Linked DNA regions of Homo sapiens: regions 1, 2 and 4 are each linked to region 3. The links come from fine-mapping of genetic effects on gene expression. A gene starts in region 3. Each other region holds a variant in brackets. All regions are shown on one strand. Distances are between the middles of the regions.

Evidence for each region.
Region 1: its variant is fine-mapped to the expression of TFB1M in whole blood (TOPMed, PIP above 0.99).
Region 2: its variant is fine-mapped to the expression of TFB1M in skeletal muscle (GTEx, PIP 0.93).
Region 4: its variant is fine-mapped to the expression of TFB1M in testis (GTEx, PIP above 0.99). The same link has a PIP of 0.9 or more in whole blood.

The regions. Positions count from the first base shown.
Region 1 is chr6:155,259,370-155,264,491 of GRCh38, reverse strand. It overlaps TFB1M (transcription factor B1, mitochondrial), which reads left to right. Exons shown (of 7, transcript NM_016020.4): 6 at 4,092-4,219. It overlaps CLDN20 (claudin 20), which reads right to left and starts at 479. Exons shown (of 2, transcript NM_001001346.3): 1 at 204-479. The variant G/C (reference allele first, on the strand shown) is at 2,678.
Region 2 is chr6:155,233,572-155,238,722 of GRCh38, reverse strand. All of the region lies in intron 15 of TIAM2 (TIAM Rac1 associated GEF 2), which reads right to left. It also overlaps a transcript of TFB1M not described here. Among named protein-coding and RNA genes, the nearest start is that of CLDN20, 28 kb to the left of the region's middle. The variant G/A (reference allele first, on the strand shown) is at 3,060.
Region 3 is chr6:155,311,793-155,316,943 of GRCh38, reverse strand. TFB1M (transcription factor B1, mitochondrial) reads left to right here and starts at 2,460. Exons shown (of 7, transcript NM_016020.4): 1 at 2,460-2,648. The coding sequence starts at 2,516. RefSeq lists enhancers at 1,646-1,695, 2,246-2,295, 1,377-2,367, 2,366-2,685 and a silencer at 2,116-2,195.
Region 4 is chr6:155,248,741-155,253,891 of GRCh38, reverse strand. It overlaps TIAM2 (TIAM Rac1 associated GEF 2), which reads right to left. Exons shown (of 27, transcript NM_012454.4): 21 at 3,923-4,041; 22 at 2,871-2,979; 23 at 1,889-1,947; 24 at 839-944. It also overlaps a transcript of TFB1M not described here. Among named protein-coding and RNA genes, the nearest start is that of CLDN20, 13 kb to the left of the region's middle. RefSeq lists an enhancer at 1-109. The variant G/A (reference allele first, on the strand shown) is at 2,795.

The DNA of each region.
Region 1 (5,122 bases), 52 kb after region 3:
TAGAATGCTGTCAGCTTTAAGGTTTTACAGTGGAAATTCTTTCCTTAAATTGGCTTTTGGACATGGATCACAGGTAGAGTGAACCAATTCCAGAAAATGTGATCTACATTCACATTTGTCAGTATTTTCTTTTTCTATGACATGCATAATTATCATATCACAGGCATCAGTGACTTGCTGCCTCTACCTGGGATTCTCCTTACCTGGGAAAGTTGTAACCTCGAGGCCCGTGATGTCCTAAAGTGGACTGTCATTAGCTTGGTGGAGGTACTTGAAGAGCAAGCAGACACTGGAGGGTGGGGAAACCAAGCATCCGGAGGCACTCATCTTGCTCCGTTGTTTTACCCGACAGTGAAGTGGCTCTCCCAAGCCCCTGTCCTCCTGCGTTCCATTTTGTGGTGCCTATAGCCTGCAAGATGCCATATGCTTCCTGTTCCCAACCACCCAGGTCTGCCCGTGATCATCCCACTTCGAACTTTGAATCCTTCTTATATGTTGTTCTTTAAAGTCTTACTGATTATTCCCTGTGGTCTTTTTTTTTTTTTTCACTAGCCCTTCTGTTGTCTTAAGTTATGGCTGTGTCTTGGCTATTTACATAGTAACTTCCTCATCATTTTTTCATCTCCACTATCTTGTCCTCTAATGGTCTTGAACACCGTGAGAGTGTTGAATGAAGACCCTTTTGTAGACAGTGGCCAGCATTGTTTCTGTGTCTGTGCATGTGGTCGTGACTTAGCTTTTGGGCATATGATAATCATCAGGAACTGAGTTGTACGTCTCTTCAGTGTCCTCTGTATATCATGTTGATTACAGTTCTCAGTTGTAATATCTAATATCTAAGATTTAAGATTTAATATCTCCTTAGCCCGGGTCCCTTGTGAGTTCCAAGTGCTGCTCTGAGCTGATAACCAGTCACGTCCTAGACACCCTGGCCTGGAAACTAGGACATCTGCCTCGGGCCTGTTATGGCCAAGGCTGCTAACACTGAGAAACAGTCTTAGCTTGTTACAGCGTTGACGTATAGGGTTAGAAAGGCAAATATTTAAATTCATTTTAAATCCTTTCATTTGAAATTTTAGTAGGTCATTTTGGTATACTGATGGACTGAGTTTGGAAAAGGCTGGCGGCATTAAACTAGAATATTTTAAGTACTTCTGATGCCTTTGTACTGATTTCTTTTTTGTAATCAAACCCATTAATAGACTTAAAACTCAAGGAAGAAAAAATAATACTTGTAATTTTAAATAAGCATTCAATTATAAGTAAAAAACATTTTTGTATTCGTTACCATAGTTACCAAGCAGCTTTCCTATAGTTCTAGAAAAAAATGGGCTCCATCATTCAGAGTAATTCTGAAAGGTGCCTTTGGGGGAAAGGGAGAGGAAGGGGTGGTACAGGAGAGGTCCTGGCCGTCCCAGAAGCAGGAGACATAACTGGAAGAGCTTTGTTGACGCTGAGTTTTACAGAATCTCCCACTAAATAGTAACTGCATTTGTGAGGGGAATTCTCTTTTAGCCGTGACATAATATAAGCCAACTTAACAGAGTATTGGAATTGTATTCAAACTTTAGAAGTCGACGCTATAGTTTACATGGGGTACTACTATATTTGTTCAGGGTTTTAAAACTTTATTTAAATCAAGCAAAAGTTAGACACTTCCTGTATTTGCAAATACCAACTATATCTCAAAGGAATGAAATCAGGCAAATAAAGATGAGGCCAAAATTTAAAATCTAAGGAAGCTGAAAGTGGCAGTTTCTGTACTGGAAGAGAGTGCATCTATCTCTGTATTTGTGCTTTTGGTCTTAATAGTTTGTAAGCCTTATGTAGAGTTTTGATAATATTTCATGGTTTTAGGCCTAGGCAGGGATTAGATTTTATCTCAGATTTTGCTAAGAGTATTTCTTCTGGAGACTAGCAGGCTGCTAGTAAGAATTGATAGAATTGGCTCTTTGTCACTGGGAGAACTGGAGTTGAAGGGTTACAGGAGATGAGTCCTGGAGAACGGGAGGCAGGGACAAGGGTGCCAGGAAGCTCAGGGGATGAAAGGGAAATGGAGAGTCCAGTGAGAGAAGGCTGGCGAGGTGTAGAGAGTGGCCAGACACATGCCTGACAGTTGGGACCACTTCTCTATACAAATCAGGAGGAGGCGAGGTAGGCAGGATAGTTCAGAGTTTGTGGGAAGGAACCTGACATCTGAAGTCAGTGGAGTGTGTCTTGGGCTGCTGCCTGCACTCTGCCATTCATAGATCAGGTCTTCTTTTTCCTTCCCCAGAACTGCCCTGAGCTGAAACCACCTTTCTTCTCTCCCTATAGCAGTACATCTACCCCACCTACACCCTGCATCCACTCCACAGCCCCTTGTCTTCTTCAGTCCCTCTTTCCCTGATGACCACAGACCTCTCCAAGCTGGGCACTGTTCTATGGTGCGTTTTGTTAAAGTCTAAGGGAAGTCCTGTAGGAAGAGGTAGTTGTTACTAAACTTGAGGAAACATGAAACAACATATAGCACACAATTCAAAAAACTTACTAAAATTTATTAAGAGCATTTGACATCTTAGTTAAGTCACTGTTCATAACTACTGTTCCACCATAGAATCTTCACAAGAACAGCCTGCTGGACTTCACAAGAAGGCTGATGGATGTTGGGGGTGGGCATTTGGGGTGTGGAAAGGCC[G/C]CTTGGCACATTCTCAGCATGCGCCAGCCCACACCGCCCCTTACCACCAAAGCCTTCTATTTCCCATTCCATCCAGTAGGAGCAGCTGTAGCTGACCTGAAACCTTCGGGGACAGGCTCATTGATTGTTTAAATAGGGAGGTGCAAGCTCTCAGGGGTCCGGGGCCTTGATGACACAGCTCAGGCACCACAGGCACCTCCCACAAGCGCGTCAGGCTGTGTGAGGCTGAGCACAGCTTATTTTCACTTTCTTGTCCATAAAGTCTCACATCATATTCAGTTGTTTTCCTTCTACCCTAAAAGAAACACAACCAGAAAAGCCAGTCTCCCATTTTCATCTGTTTAAGGAATTATGTAGCCACAAGGATCTTTAGAAGCAAGTCCTCTTAGGAGAAAATGACAACCTCTATGGGATTTCAACAATGGAGTTCCTTTTGAAAAGCAGTGGTGCAGCCCACACCTCCTAAATTGCCGTACTTTCTTCGCCTTTTGTTGAGTCTGTATGAGATCCTCATTAACAAGTTTAACAATTCCTGGAGACTGAGGCTTTTGTCAATTATGACGAGACTTCCCATTTCCTAGACCATGGTCTCCGTTAGCATTTTTGTGTGTGTAGTTACTGTTTTGAATCCATTTCCCTCTGTCTTTAAATGTTTTTCCTTTGGTATTTGAATTTGTCCTTGTGAATCACCATGAGTCCATTTTTGGAACAAATCAGGGTATAAATCTCTTATAAGATATGCCTGAAAAGTTTTATCTTCTGACAATTAAAGAATCTCCACAGCTGGCAGTAGCTTAAACACTATCAAACAGTGACATTTTTTGATGGTTTCCATTTTCAATTTCAGTCCTGCCTATGCCTTTCGGGGCATTTAAAATTGCTACTAGAAAGTTCTGTGGCTTTTCAGACTACACTCATGAATTCAGTCCAGCTGATTAATCAGTGTCTACCGAAAATAAGTGGTGTCTCTATCTGGGAAGTTTAGCACTGAGTGGTCCCTGGGGGCCTGTCTGCCATCTCTCTGTGTCTTGAAGCTGCTGCTGCGGCTTATTTTTTTCCTCATTCAAAAACTAAAATATTCTAATGCCATCTATTATCTGCTGACTGACTTTAATGATTTGGATTGATTTTTAAGCCATTGTGAAACTGTGTTTTAAAATTAAGTGACCATCAAGCACAGGTCTGGTGGATGTCATTAGAGAACAGGTGCAGCCGGCTGATTTCTCCATGTCATTTGCGAATCCAGAATGTACCATCTTCCATGCCTAGAGATGAAACCGAAGTACGTGGAAAGGTCTGTTTATGAAAACAGGCTGTTGACAGCCCATCCTCCTGTTTTACAAGGATGAGTTGATTGATCACACTATGCCACATATCATGCCACAGAATGATAATATGTTTGCTTACAACGAAGGTGGACGTGGGCGTGGTGCACTTCACTCCCTTGATACAGCCCAAGATAGAGCAGCCATTCAAGCTGGTGGAAAAAGTGGTTCAGAATGTATTTCAGTTCCGAAGGAAATACTGCCATCGAGGGCTCAGGTAAGAATGCCTTTTCTTCTCTTCAGTTGCAGTCTTTATAAAATCCTCAGGCACTTTTTAAGAGTGAGAACCTTGTTTGCTCTATTCTTAAAGCTCTGAGTATTACACTTAGTTCAGGCCTGTGACGGACAAGACTTCACTGCCAATGAGGAGAGAGCAAAGACTTGCTAGACCTCAGGTGGCCTCTCTCAGGGTGGCTTAAACATAAGCGCAGCCTGGAGTTGGTGACTGCACAGCTCACAGAGGCTCTGTACCAGGGAGCTCGTGGTTCCCCAGTGAGGACTCAAGACAGATAATAATGGGTTTTTTAAATGCTTGCTTTCTACCGAGTTGCCCTATCTCTTCTTTAAGGACACACTTGAGAACTAGGAAGCAAATATGACTTCTGAGCAGCCAAAATCATATCACGAAGTCCTCACGTAAGCACGTTTCCATCTCACAGAAAGCTGCTGCTGCCAAGAGGCTCTCAGGAATCACTGGGAAAACCTGACAGGGCCTGGTGGTCTAGAGGTCGCCCACCTCGATGGGCTCTGAAGGACCACAGCCTTGTTGCAGATCCAGAAAGAGCCAAGAAGCTGTTTAGTTAAGCCCAGTGATAGTCTGCTTAAGAAGGCAGGAAAGTGTATTTGTAAAAGATTTCCATCTACGATAATCTATCCATAGTCCGCTGTTTAAAGAGGCTCGGCGTGAGAGGCACATATTTCTCATTTTCTAAAACCTCCTCACATGGCTTCATTGTAATTCTCTCTTTCACAAGGTCCGAAGTGTCCCTTTAGCATATGAAATGACAGCAGATTATTTTAGGGGCCAGCTGGGCATCAGCTCCTAAGAGTGCTGCAGTCCACAAAGCCCATTGCTGAGGATGCCAGATGGCAGAAGCTGGAGCCTCAGCCTGCCACTTGT
Region 2 (5,151 bases), 78 kb after region 3:
AATAAACATTAAATGAATAGAGGCAGCATTTTAGAATCGGTTGTCCAGGAAGGCTTCGGTGAAAGGGTTGTAACATGTCCTGGAGGGAGCCTGCTCCAAGGGAGAACCAGAGAATGTGCCAAAGGTGCAGTGGGAAAAGGAGCCCAGTAACGTTCCAGGCCTACCTCAAGGGGCAAGTAAGGGTGAGACCCTAACAGATGTCTGCCATGGGAACTCCCAGATGGCTGAGCTCCTTCAGTAGAATCGCTTCTCTTTTGAGTCGGGGGCACTGCTGAAAACATAACTGAAAACGTGGAGGCAACTTCAGAGCTGGGTAACAGGCAGAGGTTGGAACAGTTTGGAGGGCTCAGAAGAAGACAGGAAAGTGTGGAAAAGTTTGGAACTTCCTAGAGACTTGTTGAATGGGTTTGACAAAGATGCTGATAGTGAAATGAATAATAAGGTCCAGGCTGAGGTGGTCTCAGATGGAGATGAGGAACTTGTTGGGAACTGGAGCAAAGCTGACCCTTGTTATGTTTTAGCCAACAGCTTGGCGGCATTTTGCCCCTGCCCTAGAGATCTGTGGAACTTTGAACTTGAGAGATGATTTAAGGTATCTGGGAGAAGAAATTTCTAAACAGCAAAGCATTCAAGATGTGACTTGAGTGCTGGTAAAGGCATTCAGCCTTATAGAGGAGGCAGAGCATAAAACTTTGGAAAATTTGTAGCCTGACAATGCAATAGCAAAGAAAATCCCATTTTCTGAAGAGAAATCTAAGCTGGCTGCAGACATTTGCATAAGTAAAGAGGGACTGAATGTTAATCCCCAAGACAATGATGAAAATGTCTCCAGGGCATGTCAGAGGTCTTGGCAGCCCTTCCCATCACAGGCCTGGAGGCCTAGGAGGAAAAAGTGGTTTCCTGGGCCAAGCCCAGGGTCCCCATGCTGTGTTCCGCCCAGGGAATTGGTGCCCTGAGTCCCAGCCACTCCAACCATGGCTGAAAGGAGCCAACACAGAGCTTGAGCCATGGCTTCAGAGGGTGCAAGTCTCAAGCCTTGACAGCTTCCATGTGGTGTTGAGCCTGCCAGTGCACATAAGTCCAAGAATTGGGGTTTCAGAACCTCCACCTAGATTTCAGAGAATGTATGGAAATGCCTGGATGTCCAGGCAGAAGTTTGCTGCAGGGGCAGGGCTCTCATGGAGAACCTCCACTAGGGCAGTGCAGAAGGGAAATGTGGGGTTGGAGCCCCACACAGAGTCCCTACTGGGGCACCGCCTAGTGGAGTTGTGAGAAGAGGGCCACCATCCTCCAGAGCCCAGATCCACTGACATCTTGCACCCTGTGCCTGGCAAAGCTGTAGATACTCAACACCAGCCTGTGAAGGCAGCCAGGAGGGAGGCTATATCCTTTAAAGCCACAGGGACAGAGCTACCCAAGACCATGAGAACCCACCTCTTGCATCAGTGTGACCTGGATGTGAGACATGGAGTCAAAGGAGATCATTTTGGAGCTTTAAGATTTCACTGTCCTGCTGGATTTCGGAATTGCATGGGGCCTGGAGCCCCTTTATTTTGGCCAATTTCTCCCATTTGGAATGGCTGTATTTACCCAATGCCTGTACCCCCATTGTATCTAGAAAGTAACTAACTTGCTTTTGATTTTACAGGCTCATAGGTGGAAGGGACTTGCCTTCTCTGGGATGAGATTTTAGACTGTAGACCTTTCAGTTAATGCTGAAATGAGTTGAGACTTTGGGGGACTGTTGGGAAGGCATGATTGGTTTTCAAATGTGAAGATATGAGATTTGGGAGGGGCCAGGGCAAAATGGTATGGTTTGGCTCTGTGTCCCCACCTAAATCCCATCTTGTAGCTCCCATAAATAATTCTCATGTATTGTGGGAGGGGCCCAGTGGGAGATGATTGAATCATGGGGGTGGGCCTTTCCCATGCTGTTCTTGTAATAGTGAATAGATCTCACAAGATCTGATGATTTTAAAAACAGGAGTTTCTCTGCACAAGCTCTCTTTGCCTGCTGCCATCCACGTAAGATATGACTTGCTCTTTTATTTTATTTTTTTGAGACAGAGTCTTGCTCTGTCACCCAGGCTGGAGTGCAGTGGCACGATCTCAGCTCACTGCAACCTCTGCCTCCCGGGTGCAAGCAATTCTCCTGCCTCAGCCTCCCAAGTAGCTGGGATTACAAGTGCCCACCACCACACCTGGCTAATTTTTGTATTTTTAGTAGAGATGGGGTTTTGCCATGTTGGCCAGGCTGGTCTTAAACTCCTGACCTCAGGTGATCTGCCCACCTCAGCCTCCCAAAGTGCTGGGATTACAGGCATGAGCCACCATGCCTGGCTGTCATGGGTGTTTCTTAAAAAAACTCCCCCAGGTGTTGCTAATGTGTGGCCTGCATGAGAACTGCTGGTCTACTCTTCATACAGCTCGCGTTCTGCTTGGATTTCTGGGAGTGGTGCTGGCTCCAGTGGGATCACCTGTCCCAGGGTCCCCACTGAGGTATGTGGACAGAGCTCACGGGCTACAGGAAATTGACGGAATCACAGCCATGACTCTGGTGTTCTGGTTGTGGCCTCCTATGAAGTGAGCTAAAATGTTCACGATGATAATACTCGGACTCCAAGACTCACTGATTTGAAATCTCTGTACTGGGATTTGCACCACAAGCTCAGACAATATAATTCTGCAGTCCTGAAAACTAACAGTTCCCAGGGCTATAGAATCTATATTAAGCTTGAATATACTGTATAAAATAAGATCTGATAAAATACATCATAAGTTAAATGGCATCTGGTGAGATTATGGCTTTGCTTCACTGGGATGTCAAAAATCACACCTAACAATGCAGTGTTAAAGTAACGAGATCTTACAAATAAAGTATCTTGCCATTTTAGAAAAACAGAATTCACTTTATGAACTTTTCTGGTAAGATTAACTCCCAAAAAGTGAATGTTAGCTGAGATTTTTCATAGCAGATTTACTTCTTAAAGTACCACAATTAAGTGTTCAAGTGCTAGAAAGCCACCTTTTGTACACTTAACATTTTAGCTGTTGTCTAA[G/A]GGAGTTGGTGAGGATTACTTGGGACCAAAAGGAGGCAGGGCCCCCAAAAGGAGAAGAGTAATTATAAGTGTGTCTTTTCAGATTGTAGCTGAAGGAGTCACTTGGGTGATTACATTTCAGTTCACCCACTGTTCGTGATGTTTACAAACATTAGAGGGACATTCTGGGTGAACCTGATCAGCACTTTATAGGAATAGTGATTATCTGGGCTGGGATATCTTCACATGCATATATGGTGATAGGCCTGAAAAGCACAGATGAGAGTCAGAAGGCCTGGGCTGCAGTCCAGGCTCAACCCCCAGCCTTCTGTGCACTCCTGGGCAAGTCTCGATTCTAAGTCTTCAGTGTCCTTCCTGATGAAAAGGCAGCAGGAATGCCTATTCCATCAAGTAACTGCTAAAATTGCCGTTTGGGTCAAGAAGAAAAGGAAACTCGTGTTTGCCGAGCAGCTGCTGTGCACAAGGCACAGTTGGGAGGTTTCTCACAGAACATGCCAGCATTGCAGCTTTACCATGACTCTCCAGGGCTTTCCAGCTGAGGGGCAAGGAGGCTTCAGCGAGACCTTAAATGGCACAGGGCCCGTTCCCCTCTCTAGCTCTGCTCCATCTCTAGCTCTGTTCCCCTCTCTAGCTGTGCTCTGTCTCTAGCTGTGCTCCATCTCTAGCTGTGCTCCGTCTCTAGCTCTGTTCCCCTCTCTAGCTGTCCGCACAGCCCCTGCCACTCCCAGGTATTTAGCAGAGCACAGGCAAAGCAATCTAGTTCCTCACGCCTCCTGCTGCCTCTGCCTCCCATGTGGTCAGGGCTCTCCTGGCCCCAGGTGTTCTAGGGATGCAGCCACCTGCCTCTGGAGACCACCTCTGCTTAGAGAGGCAGAAACAGCTCATATGCAGACAACTGGGACATCTATTGAGCCTATTCCACCCCCACCCCAGGAATGCTGCTTTAAAAGCAAAAGACTGGTCTGGCACAGTGGCTCATGCCTGTAATCCCAACACTTTAGGAGAATGAGGCAGGTGGATCACTTGAGCCCAGGAGTTCAAGACCAGCCTGAACAACATAAGGGAAACCCATCGCTACAAAAGATAAAAAAAAATTAGCCGGCCATGGTGGCACACGCCTATGGTCCCAGCTACTCAGAAGGCTAAGTCAGGAGGATGGCTTGAGCCCAGGAGGTCAAGACTATCCTGGACAACATAGGGAAACCCATCTTTACAAAAGATAAAAAGATTAGCTGGCTGTGGTGGCACATGCCTGTGGTCCCAGCCACTAACGATGCTGAGGCAGGAGTTCAAGGTTACAGTGAGTTATGATGACACCACTGAGTGACAGAGTGAGGCTCTATCTCTAAAAGTAAATAAATAAAAGCAAAAGACAGATGATCATAACTTAGGGCTGGGAGTGTGAGGATTCAGTGGCCTAACAGGATGTGCATATGCAGAATAAAAAACACGGGCACTTGAAATGGGGGCCTCAGATTGGTTTTTTCCAGTTTGTAGCAATCAATGCTACAAACTTGGGTCCATCACAGGCCTCAGCTTTCATAAAAGAGCATGAAACCAATATTTTCTTTAAGAAGTCATAAAAAGATTAAATAAAAACATTTTTTCCAAAAATTATGCTATCTGGAAAAGCAATGATATTGAACCCCAACCCCCCCCCAAAAAAAATTTTCTCTCAAATTGTTTTTGTTTTGTTTTTTTGAGACAGGGTCTCACTCTGCCACCCAGGCTGGAGTGCTGTGGTACAATCATAGCTCACTGCAGCCTCAAACTCCTGAAATTAAGCAACCCTCCCACCTCAGCCTCCTAAGCAGCTGGAACTCCAGGCGCATGCCACCATACCCAGCTAATTCTTTTGATTTTTAGTAGAGAAGGGAGGGTCTCACTATGTTGCCCAGGCTGGTCTCAAACTCCTGAACTCCAGCGATCCTCCCACCAAACTGCTGGGATTATAGGCGTGAGCCACCATGCCGGGCCTTTAGTTCAGGTTTTTAATGTTATACTAAGGTTGATCCCTGCTTGAAAATGATTTTATCTTATTTATAGATGAGGAGCATCCCACTCAAGAGCTCTGAATTCAGGCAGACGTCTA
Region 3 (5,151 bases):
GTATATTGACAGGGAGGCCCTAAGTGGGTGATTAATTGATTGAGGTAGAGCTCTCATAAATGGGATTAGCAACCTTATGAAGAGCTGGAGGGAATTAGCTAATCCCTTTTTGCCCTTCTGCCTTTGGACATGTGAGGACATGACATTCCTCTTTTCTGGGGGATGCAGCAACAAGATGCTATCTTGAGGTAAAGAGAGCAGCCTTCACAAGGCAACAAACTTGCCAGCTCCTTGATCTTGGACTTTCAGCCTCCAGTACTGTGAGAAGTACATTTCTGTTCTTTATAAATTACCCAGTCTCAGATATTTTGTTATAGCAGCAGGAATGAACTAAGACACATCTTTGTGAACCTACATCACAGAATTGAAATGAGAATTAAGTAACAAAGGAAGCTGCTTTATAAATAGGTTCAGTTATTGAAGATGGCATGGTATAAACCATCCATAAATTCATATTTAGATCTGGGGACAAATTATCAGGAATCTACAAATTCTCCACGCAAAGGTGTTTCACTCATTTAGATTTTAGTTTGTTTTTATGTTGATGTTAATCTTTTAAAAAGCTCATGTGATTATATTTGGGGTCATCTGAACATCCTCTTTATACCTGTTACACAACGTGTGTGTTCATGGTAGCATTAGTGCCAAATAATTCAAATTCACTTGTTTCCAAGCTACTGAAAACAGATGCAGGCAGACTTAATATGTAGCTTCCATATTCTTCCAAAAGAAAGACAAGCGACAATGGAAAAAAAATTGAACAAAGATTTGGTAATAGTTTGACTCCAGAAAACTAATGAGAACATTCAGTCATTACATGGCACACTGGATCACTGGTAGGCTGAAACTTAAAAAAAAAAAAAAAAGAAAACCTGCCAGTTAGCACTAAGTGTCGTGATTTAACAGTGTTCATCCTTGTCAATTAATAAGACCATTTGTATTGGTTTTGTATATATTTATTGCAATTGTTTTAAATAGTCATATGAAAACTGTAAGCTTATGTTTACACCTAGATTCGTATTTCTATATATTTAGATGTTACAAAATTAACACATATTAACTTAAAAATAATAAGCTGATACTTGAGTGTGGCCAGTGAGATCAGAACTCAGAAAAAACACAACTCAGGTTGTCTTCTCTCTGTACTTTGCTGTCTGACTCTGGGCATTGTCAAATGACCTCACCTCCCCTATTTCTTCACAGCAAACTAAGAATAATAATCTCATTCACATGGGACCATTGTGAGGAGTACGGGAAATAATGAATATAACTGTGAAATAATGCTTTGTCAGGTATACTGTGTTTTGGACGATAAGATATCTGAATCAAGAGTTTGTACTTCCAGTCTACATTTTGATGCCACGTTGGGCAAATCTCCTTACCTCTATGGTAGTCATCACTATTTTTTAAAGCTAGGAGATTATCTCAGTTCCTTTTAAAACAGCTTTTATAGAAGGTGGTTGAGTTTTCCACTGGAATTTCAAAGTACTCCTCATTTTTATATCCATACCCATAGTTGTTTCGTTTTCCATTAGCTTTTTTAAAAACTTACTAATTGAGGAACAGAAACTTTAAAATTCATTTGTGATCAACGCAGCAATGTCCAAACATAAGCAGGGTTAAAACAGCAAAATTCTCCCACCTATCAGAGAAACTTTAATTTTTTTTTTTTTTTGCTTCGTTGTTTTTATCTCGTATAACGGAAAGACAGAACTCATATTTCAGTCTTCTCTCTGTTCTTAGCTGTAATCCTAGCAAATCGAATGACCTCTTTACACTGGCCAATTATTCATCTGCCAAATAATAACAGCCACCACTGATCACGTGGGAGCTTACCCAATGCCATGCGTGCACTATGTTCTGAACGTGCACACCAGGCGATCTCTCTCATTTAGTGCTCACAATTTTGAGGTAGACATTAGCTCCATTTAACTGATGAAAAAACTGAGGCTGAACGAAGTTAAAAACCCATCATGCAGCATCTGCAGAGCGGCGGTTCTAAAAACGCCTCACAGTAAGAAAGAATTGCTAACAAACAGTAGCTTTGCCTCTAAGCACCCGCTTTTCCTCTAATATTCACAGACAGGTATTTAGAACGTTAAAGAGCCGGAAGCCCTTGGGAACTTCAGGGCGGGAGTAAACCGGCTGCACCTCTCAGAGCAACTCCTCCGAAAAACCCCACCCTGTCCAGGCCCCGCCTCGTCCCGCCCTCCTGGGCGCTCTCCCCATAGCCCGCCCAGGAGAAGCCTAGTCCACCCGGCTCTCCCCCGGCTCTCACAGGCGGAAGCCGCCGACCACCCAGCCTGCCCTTCTCGCGGCAGGACTTAGCGCATGCGCTCTCAGCACGCCGGGAATTTCCTGTCCGCGGTCATCGCTTCCGGTGGGATAGGTCTGACCAATGGGGCTGACTCCGAGGCGGGCCTTAGGTCTCGCAGGTTCCTCCCCTGCGCGTTTCTTTCGGAGCGGCGGTGAAGGTCCTGGGTGAGGTAGGGTTGGATGGTGCTTGCCGCGTATCATGGCTGCCTCCGGAAAACTCAGCACTTGCCGTCTCCCTCCGTTGCCCACGATTCGAGAAATCATTAAGTTGTTAAGACTGCAAGCAGCGAAGCAGCTATCACAGAATTTCCTCCTGGACTTGAGGCTGACAGGTGGATGGCTTAGCAGTGCTCCCCGGATGTCTCCCCAGTGTCCGTGGGGGCGTGGGCCGGGGGGTCTTGCACGTCCCCGCGGGCGGGTGTCCAGGCACTGGCGTGCGACGGGCTTTTGGTCAGGTCCTTCGACCTCTTTGTATCAGAACTCCGGTCCCACCGCCCAGGAGACACGTGAAGTGCGTTGATTGCTCACAAAACTCCGCGTTCGGGGGGGTGTAGCCTGCCGGCAGGCTGCATAAATGCCAAGCTCCCTAGGGGAGGAAGGGTTCATGGGTCGTGAAAGGCGCTAGTGAATATTGGAATCTGGGTCACTGTGAAATCAATCATTCTGAAATAGTACAGCACATGCTGACTGCAGTTGCTTTACATGCAGTTTAAAGTTACCAGAATTTAAATTGATGCGAGGATTTTATCAATAACTTGGTGAAAAGAGTATCCCTCGTATGATTCGTTTTTTAAACGTTTACCTGTTCAGTCTAAGCCTCGGGGGCGCTAATATTCATTCATAAGTACATATTACACAAGCAACATTGTGCTAGTGCCGGGGGTAGGATATGGGCGTGAACAAGGCGGTGTTTCCTCGAGGAGCTTACTTTTAGCAAGTTTACATTCCCACACCTAATTGTTTAAAGTTACTTTTTATGAGATATAATTTATGTGCAATAAAATTAATAAGTTTGAAGTGCTCAATTTGATGAGTTTTGACGAATGTATTTATATATTGGTTTAACCACCATCACCATTGCTTAGTGATGTTCTATGAGATGAGGTTGCAAAAATATATTACAAATACGTCTACTAAGTCACGGCTGGAGTACTTAGGTTTTGAGATTTTCATATTTCATTCTATTTAGTCCCACTTCAGAAGTTGAAAAGAGCAGTAAATCACACCCAAAAAGTTCATTTTCACTTAAATGAAGCACACTCCAGAAAACATAAAATGTTTTATTTCTTGGACATGTAGTCTTTATTCTGCCTGTACCAATATGACTTTGGATAAAATAATTTAACTCAAGTTTTCTCTTTTTTTTTTTTTTCTTTTTTTAAGATGGAGTTTCACTCTTGTTGCCCAAGCTGGAGTGCAATGGCATGATCTCAGCTCACTGCAACCTCCGCCTCCCCGGTTCAAGTGATTCTCGTGCCTCAGCCTCCCAGGTAGCTAGGATTACAGGCGTGAGCCACCGTGCCTAGCTAATTTTGTGTTTTTAGTAAAGACAGGGTTTCACTATGTTGCTCAGGCTGGTCTCAAACTCCTGATCTCAAGTGATCCACTCGCCTCGGCCTTCCAAAGTGTTGGGATTACAGGTGTGAGCCACCATGTCCAGTAGTTTCCTCATCTTTTAATTGGAAGAAGGGCCTACTACTTTAAAAGATTGCCCACTCTAAAATTCTTTGGTTCTAGTAATAGCTAGTACCAGCCTTTTCTGCTTGTTATTAGCCACATTCTAAATATAAATCACCATTCTCAGGGCAGAAGTTATAGGTCTGTGTATTTTTTAAAATCCTTCAAATACATTTTCTCATGAGCCTTTATCTTCAGGAGTAAGTTTCAAATTCTAGATATTATCCACTCTTTCTATGGGAACCAGAGTTAACGGAGATGAGGGTACTTAGCTGAGGTTAGAAGCTCAGGCAGAAGAGAGCAAGATTGAAATCCAAGCTCATTGATTTGATAGCGCTTCTTTAATATTCATTTGTATTTCAATGTGCCTGAAAAGTTTGAGAGCAGAGACCTGCCTACTGTTGTAGCTCTCCATTTTAAAGAAGGAGAGTATTAAATTTATTCCATAATGTATCATTCCTGTTCCCTCTGAGAGGCATTGGCTTTAGGATTTATACCTATGTTGAAGTCCATGACCTTGTACAAATAAAACAATAGACAAGGAAACTGAAAAGTTAAGAGAAATGAAATTGGGATAGGAGTCCTTGGTTAACATGTAAGGATTAGGTGAGAATGTGTGTAAATCCATCATAATAGATAAGATGGTCAGTGGATGCTAATTCCCTCCCTGTTAAAAGACTAAACCATTTTTGGATGGCTGAGAAACTAGTTTCCGCATTTTAGCTGACAAAGTTATGTTGTTGAAAACAAGCAAAAATAGGACTGTGAACACCTACAAGAAGTGCTGGTATGTTTTTAGTGACTAAATTTCCACTATCCTAGGAAGACCAGTTCCTTGGATTTCCATATCTCAGAATCACTAAGACCAGCCCATTGCATGTTTTTCCAGATGTGATGACTGGTTGCACAGAGTCAGTACTCTACCTTTTTATGATGTCTTAAGGGCTGCTAACTTGAATTTGATTAATTAAAAAATTAATTTTTCTGTATTAACATGCATGTGTGCAAAGCTTTAAAAACCCTCAACTGCTCAATTTAACTTTTTCCTGAAAATGACTAAGAATTCAAATTTCTGAAAATCTTACGATCTAAGAACTTATTGCCATTGCCATAGTGACCACCACCAAGATGTCTCTAGATAAAAATAAGACTTCAGCA
Region 4 (5,151 bases), 63 kb after region 3:
CATCAGTTAAGAAAGTCTAATATTCCCAGTCCTGGCTCATTTTCTTCTGTGGCTTGTTCTATGTATGATTTTCACAGTTACAAGAACTGAAATGCCTTTTGGTTACTTTTTACATTTCCTGCTGCAGATTTTCCTCCATCTGAACTGCCTTCACCCTCTCTCTGGAGCCCCTCTCTGGGGAAGAGGAGATTCAGTGGATCCTATTCTTCAACCTCCTTTGCAGTTTTGCCCTTTCCTTGGAAGGAACAGGAGCTGGGGTACTTGAGGTAAAAGAGGCCTGCCCCAAATGTGGTCATTTTCTCGAAAACATAAGCACTTCTGACAAAAGTTAAACAGAAGCCCAGCAGGTCACTGCATGACTCAGCCTGCTGGCCTCTTCTGTCACCAGATACCTGTCACCAAAACAAGGTTACTCTGGAAGGATCTCTGAACATTTTCCAGAGTCAAAGATTTTTTTCTTTTTATATCACCTACAGTACTACCTAACCTTAAGGAATTTTCTGCTATATTCTAAATTTGTAAAAACATAAATTTGTGGATCTTTGTTCTTCTAACACATTTTAGGGTATCAAGGCAGAAAGGAAAATGTTGAAAACTATTGATAGGGAAAATAAGGAAACAATGAAAGGCATTTGGCAAAGAAAAAGCTATCCACCAGCATTTAGTTTCTCCCAGAAGTCTGCTAAGGAACATCAAAACAACCTCTCTTGTCCTCATTTTCCTTGTCTATAAAATAAAAGGCACCAAAAATTATCCCCAAGGTCCTTTCTTAATTTACATTCCACAGTTAAGTCTACTAAAATGCTTTTTCTGGCATCATACTGCACGAAACAGTTACCTGCTGGATTCCCCAGTCTGACTTGAAGCGCGGAGATGGGGATCAACCAGCGGAATTTAAATGGGTCCAAGTCAGTAGAGTTGTGTGCAGGCCGGGAATTCGAGGGCTGTAACATGAAGGCCCACCAAGAAAAGTGTTAGGGAAGCTGTCACTGAGGGAGGATGTGTGCACAGTGAATAGAAGTTTATGTTCTCCCTGTGGGCGAGTCTCCGAGCAGCCATGTGGGTGTTCAGGGCACAGAAGTCAATCAGCTACGCACCCAGTTCTCAAAGACCTCACATGCTAGGGAAGGTGCGGAGGCAGAGTTGTGGTTCAGAAGCAGTTACAGGTCTCAAAGCAAGAACAGCAGCCAAAGCTTCCACGCCCTGACGCTGCCTCTGAATGGTAAACCAATGGCATATGGTATCCACAGCTAGGCTTTGCTTTTTTCTGAGTGAAGGTAAAAGGCATTTGAAAATAAACCAAAGTTTCACAGACTATGTTTATGGAACAAACATGGGCCATTTTCAGGGATATAAAAGTCGATGTTCTATGTAGGCCCCCATATGAGTATTTATCTACTTTATTTACTTATTTATGTATTTATTGACAGGGTCTCACTCTGTCGCACAGGCTGGAATGCAGTGGCATGATCAAGGCTCACTGCAGCTTCCACCTCCTGGGCTCAATTGATCCTCCTGCCTCAGCCTCCCGAGTAGCTGGGACTACAGGCACGTGCTACCACACCCAGTTACTTGTATTTTTGGTAGAGGCAGGGTTTCACCATGTTGGCCAGGCTGGTCTCAAATTCCTGGGCTCAAGCCTCAGCCTCCCAAAGTGCTGAGATTACAGGCATGAGCCACCGTGCCCAGCTGTATATCTTCTTTTAAAACAGACATCTTTCATGGGGAGACTCAGAAACGCTCTCAGTATGTGATGGGGTTAGTTACCCTCAGAGTAAGCAGTATCAGTCAGCCCAGCCTTGGTGCTCAGTGGGCTTTTCAGTTCAACGTTAATAGGAAGATACAGCTATGAAAAGGTAGCTTAAATTAAAATGAATTTTTGCCTTACCAATTTCTTTTTCAGTTTGCAGTTTTCTTTATAAACCAGTATGACGGCTCTCTTAAAAACTAAAGAAAGGAAAAGAGAAAGAAAGTCTTTATTTTATGCAAACTCTTCCAAGGTTAAACTAGAGCTGAACGTCTTAACAGAGTAACACTCTCCAAACGTATGAGTCTCTAAGACCTCACTCTGCCAACATGAGTGAATAAATGGTACTTCCCTTTCGCTCATATTTGAACTATGCAGAAGCACCTGCTTATTTAAAAGCTACTATTAGAAGTTGATCTTGGCTTTTTTAAACTCTTTGTTTTATTGAAAGCTGAGGACACTGTGTTCATCTCAGTGACAATATACTGTCACTTGTTCTCCCAACTCTCAGAATTAAAACATTTGAAATACAGCAGACTATTAAGATAGCAGGTTTCTGGCCAGGCACGGTGGCTAATGCCTGTAATCCCAGCACTCCAGGAGGCTGAGGCAGGTGGATCACCTGAGGTCAGGAGTTCGAGACCAGTCTGGCCAGCATGGTGAAACCCCATCTCTACTAAAAATACAAAAATCAGCCGGGCGTGGTGGCGAGCACCTGTAATCCCAGCTACTCAGGAGGCTTAGGCAGGGGAATAGCTTGAACCTGGGAGGTGGAGGTTGCAGTGAGCAGAGATCACACCATTGCACTCCAGCCTGGGCAACAAGAGCAAAACCTCGTCTCAGAAAAAGAAAAAGAAAAAGATAGCAGGTTTCAAAATAGCCGCAGGGATCTGTTCCTGTAACACTTGGCCTGAGCCAAGCAGCAGAAGGGAGAACAAGATAATGAGGATGCAGAGCGATGCCGGAGTTTCAAATAGTTGGGGGCTGGCCCTGTTAAGTCCCCAACCATTATAGCAATTCTGACTCCTGGAGCTCAGGAGTGAGCTG[G/A]ACTGGTGCGGCTAGTGAAGTTCTTCCGTAATCCCAGCCTCTGTTCAGTCTGCATTCTTCTGAATGGAATACTAACCAAATACTGTGAGCTCAAGGTCCTTTCTAGCTTTTCCTAGAGACAGAAATGGATTCAACCAGGAAACCGTAGAGTGCATCAGAAGCTCTCCCATCGAAAGTTCTGTTACCTAGATTGTAAAAACAGGAGGTAAGGAAGATACGGAAATCCCAGGCTAGATGATCTCTTGTTAGATAGTGATGTACACACAGTCATTGCTAAAATGCAAGCACAGCTGGTTTAATTTTTATGATACCTGTAAACATGGGGCCTTAAACGGTGGAGCTTTTGAAAATATGAGTTAAGCACCCAAGTGTCTGATGAATAACATAAAGGTGAAGGCATTTTGCTCCAGTGCACGCACATGTAGGTGAGACATGCCTTGTGACCAACTCAGTTTCCATAAGATGAACTCTACCAGTGTCCGTGGTTCTTCCAGAGTGCCTTTTGTAAGCTTTCCCCTGGGATCTAGTACATCCATCACCTCTGAGCTCCATTCGGGCTGCTGATAAAAGAGCACCAGCATTGAAACTGGCCAGAGTGAAGGACTGATCTCCAGTCCTTTCCTGTTCCTGCCATTTTCTCCCTAAACTATGCTACTTCCTGCATGCTGGCTTGAGAAGCACAAGATTCTAAATTAAGCAATCAGATAAAAAGGAAAAATACAGAAAATGTCAAATCCTGCTTGGACTAGTTTTATAAGTAAGCAGGTAACCACCAATATTTGATGTTAAAAAAAAAAAAAAAAAAAGGCAAAATCAAAAAGGAAAAGCCCCAGACTCCACATGCCAGTTCCCATGTCCTTTCTCCACCCCACCCTCTGCCAGCTCTCACCCTCCATGGATGTTCCAGACAATGTGAACGTGACATAAGGTTATATTTTAAACCAGTGTAATGAATTTTATGATATGTCTATATGTAAATTGTGTAGTTCATTAGACACATTGTTATCAAGAAAAATCTTAGGCATTTTCTCCTCCAGGAAAGTCCTAACAGGGCAGCCTATCTAGAAGGTCACCTACAGACCCCACACCACATGCACTAGGCTCCCAGGGTGCAGATGTCTCACGGACCTCCTTCTCTGTTCCGCTCTGCTCAGCTACTAGCTGGTCAAACACGGTCCCATAATCCTCATAGATCTTCTGCATCTCATTGATGTGGCTCGCTACTTTCTCCATTGCCTTTAGTGCTTCTGCAAGATATGAAATCATATTTATTTCATAACTGTTATTTGTTTTAGATTCTATCCAACAGTAATAATGAATGGAGTCAAGATTCAACTCAGGATTCCAGACCAGTACCCACTAGCAGGAGCATTACATTCAGAATAAGTCACAACAGCCCACTGTAGCCCAGCCCTTAGAATGAAGAACAGCAAAATTATCTCCTACTTCAAATTCTTTTTGAAATGAGACAGAGTATCAGTGAAAAGTATCACTAATAACAACAACTGACATTTCTGGAGCACTTTCTACTTAGCAAGGATCACGACAGGTGATTTCTGTGAATCATCTCATTTAGTGCCCGCAATAACTCAAAGACTAAACCATCCCATTTTACAGATGAGAAAAGTGAGTGCAGGATATTCTGCCAGAGTTCCAGAGAGGAAAACACAAGAATGGAGCCAGGCTTCAAACCCAAGCCTGACTGGGCTTAGGGCACCAGCTCTCGAGTTTGGCTTGCCCTTCTGGGAACCCGGATCTAGGTTTAAATGGAACTTAAAAACACCCCAGTACATGACTGACTGACAGAACAATTGTTTGCATTTATATATGGTATATGTTCATAACTTTCCGCGAGGGAATATGAGAGATACATTATTTTATAAAAGCCAAAAAGCAAAATTTTAGGTCACTTCTAAATTCAGTATTCTTTATACTTTTTTTTCTCCCAATTCAGCATTTTAATTCTAACTGGAGGGAAGTTTGGAAGGAAGTTTTTTAAATCAAACCCTTCTAAAGATCATCTTAATACAAAATGAAGTTTTTACATAGTATGAATGCTGAACATAATTTGTATTATTTACTTATAGAAGTTAACTGTCATACAAAAATGCTTTCCTCTTGTTGATTTTGATACCAAAGTATGCTTGTCATGGAAAAAAAGCCAGTTTAATTTACGCTCTTCTCAGTATTTATTATTCAGTAATACTAAAGTGTTAATAAGCCTCTCTCTCCCCATAAATTTTATCACCTATGGTTTAATTGGACCTCCTAGTTTCAACATATGAACAAATCACTATCTCCAACCCAAATAAAGCCCCTCTTTAAGGATCCTCTATTTACTATCAAACTGCAAGGCT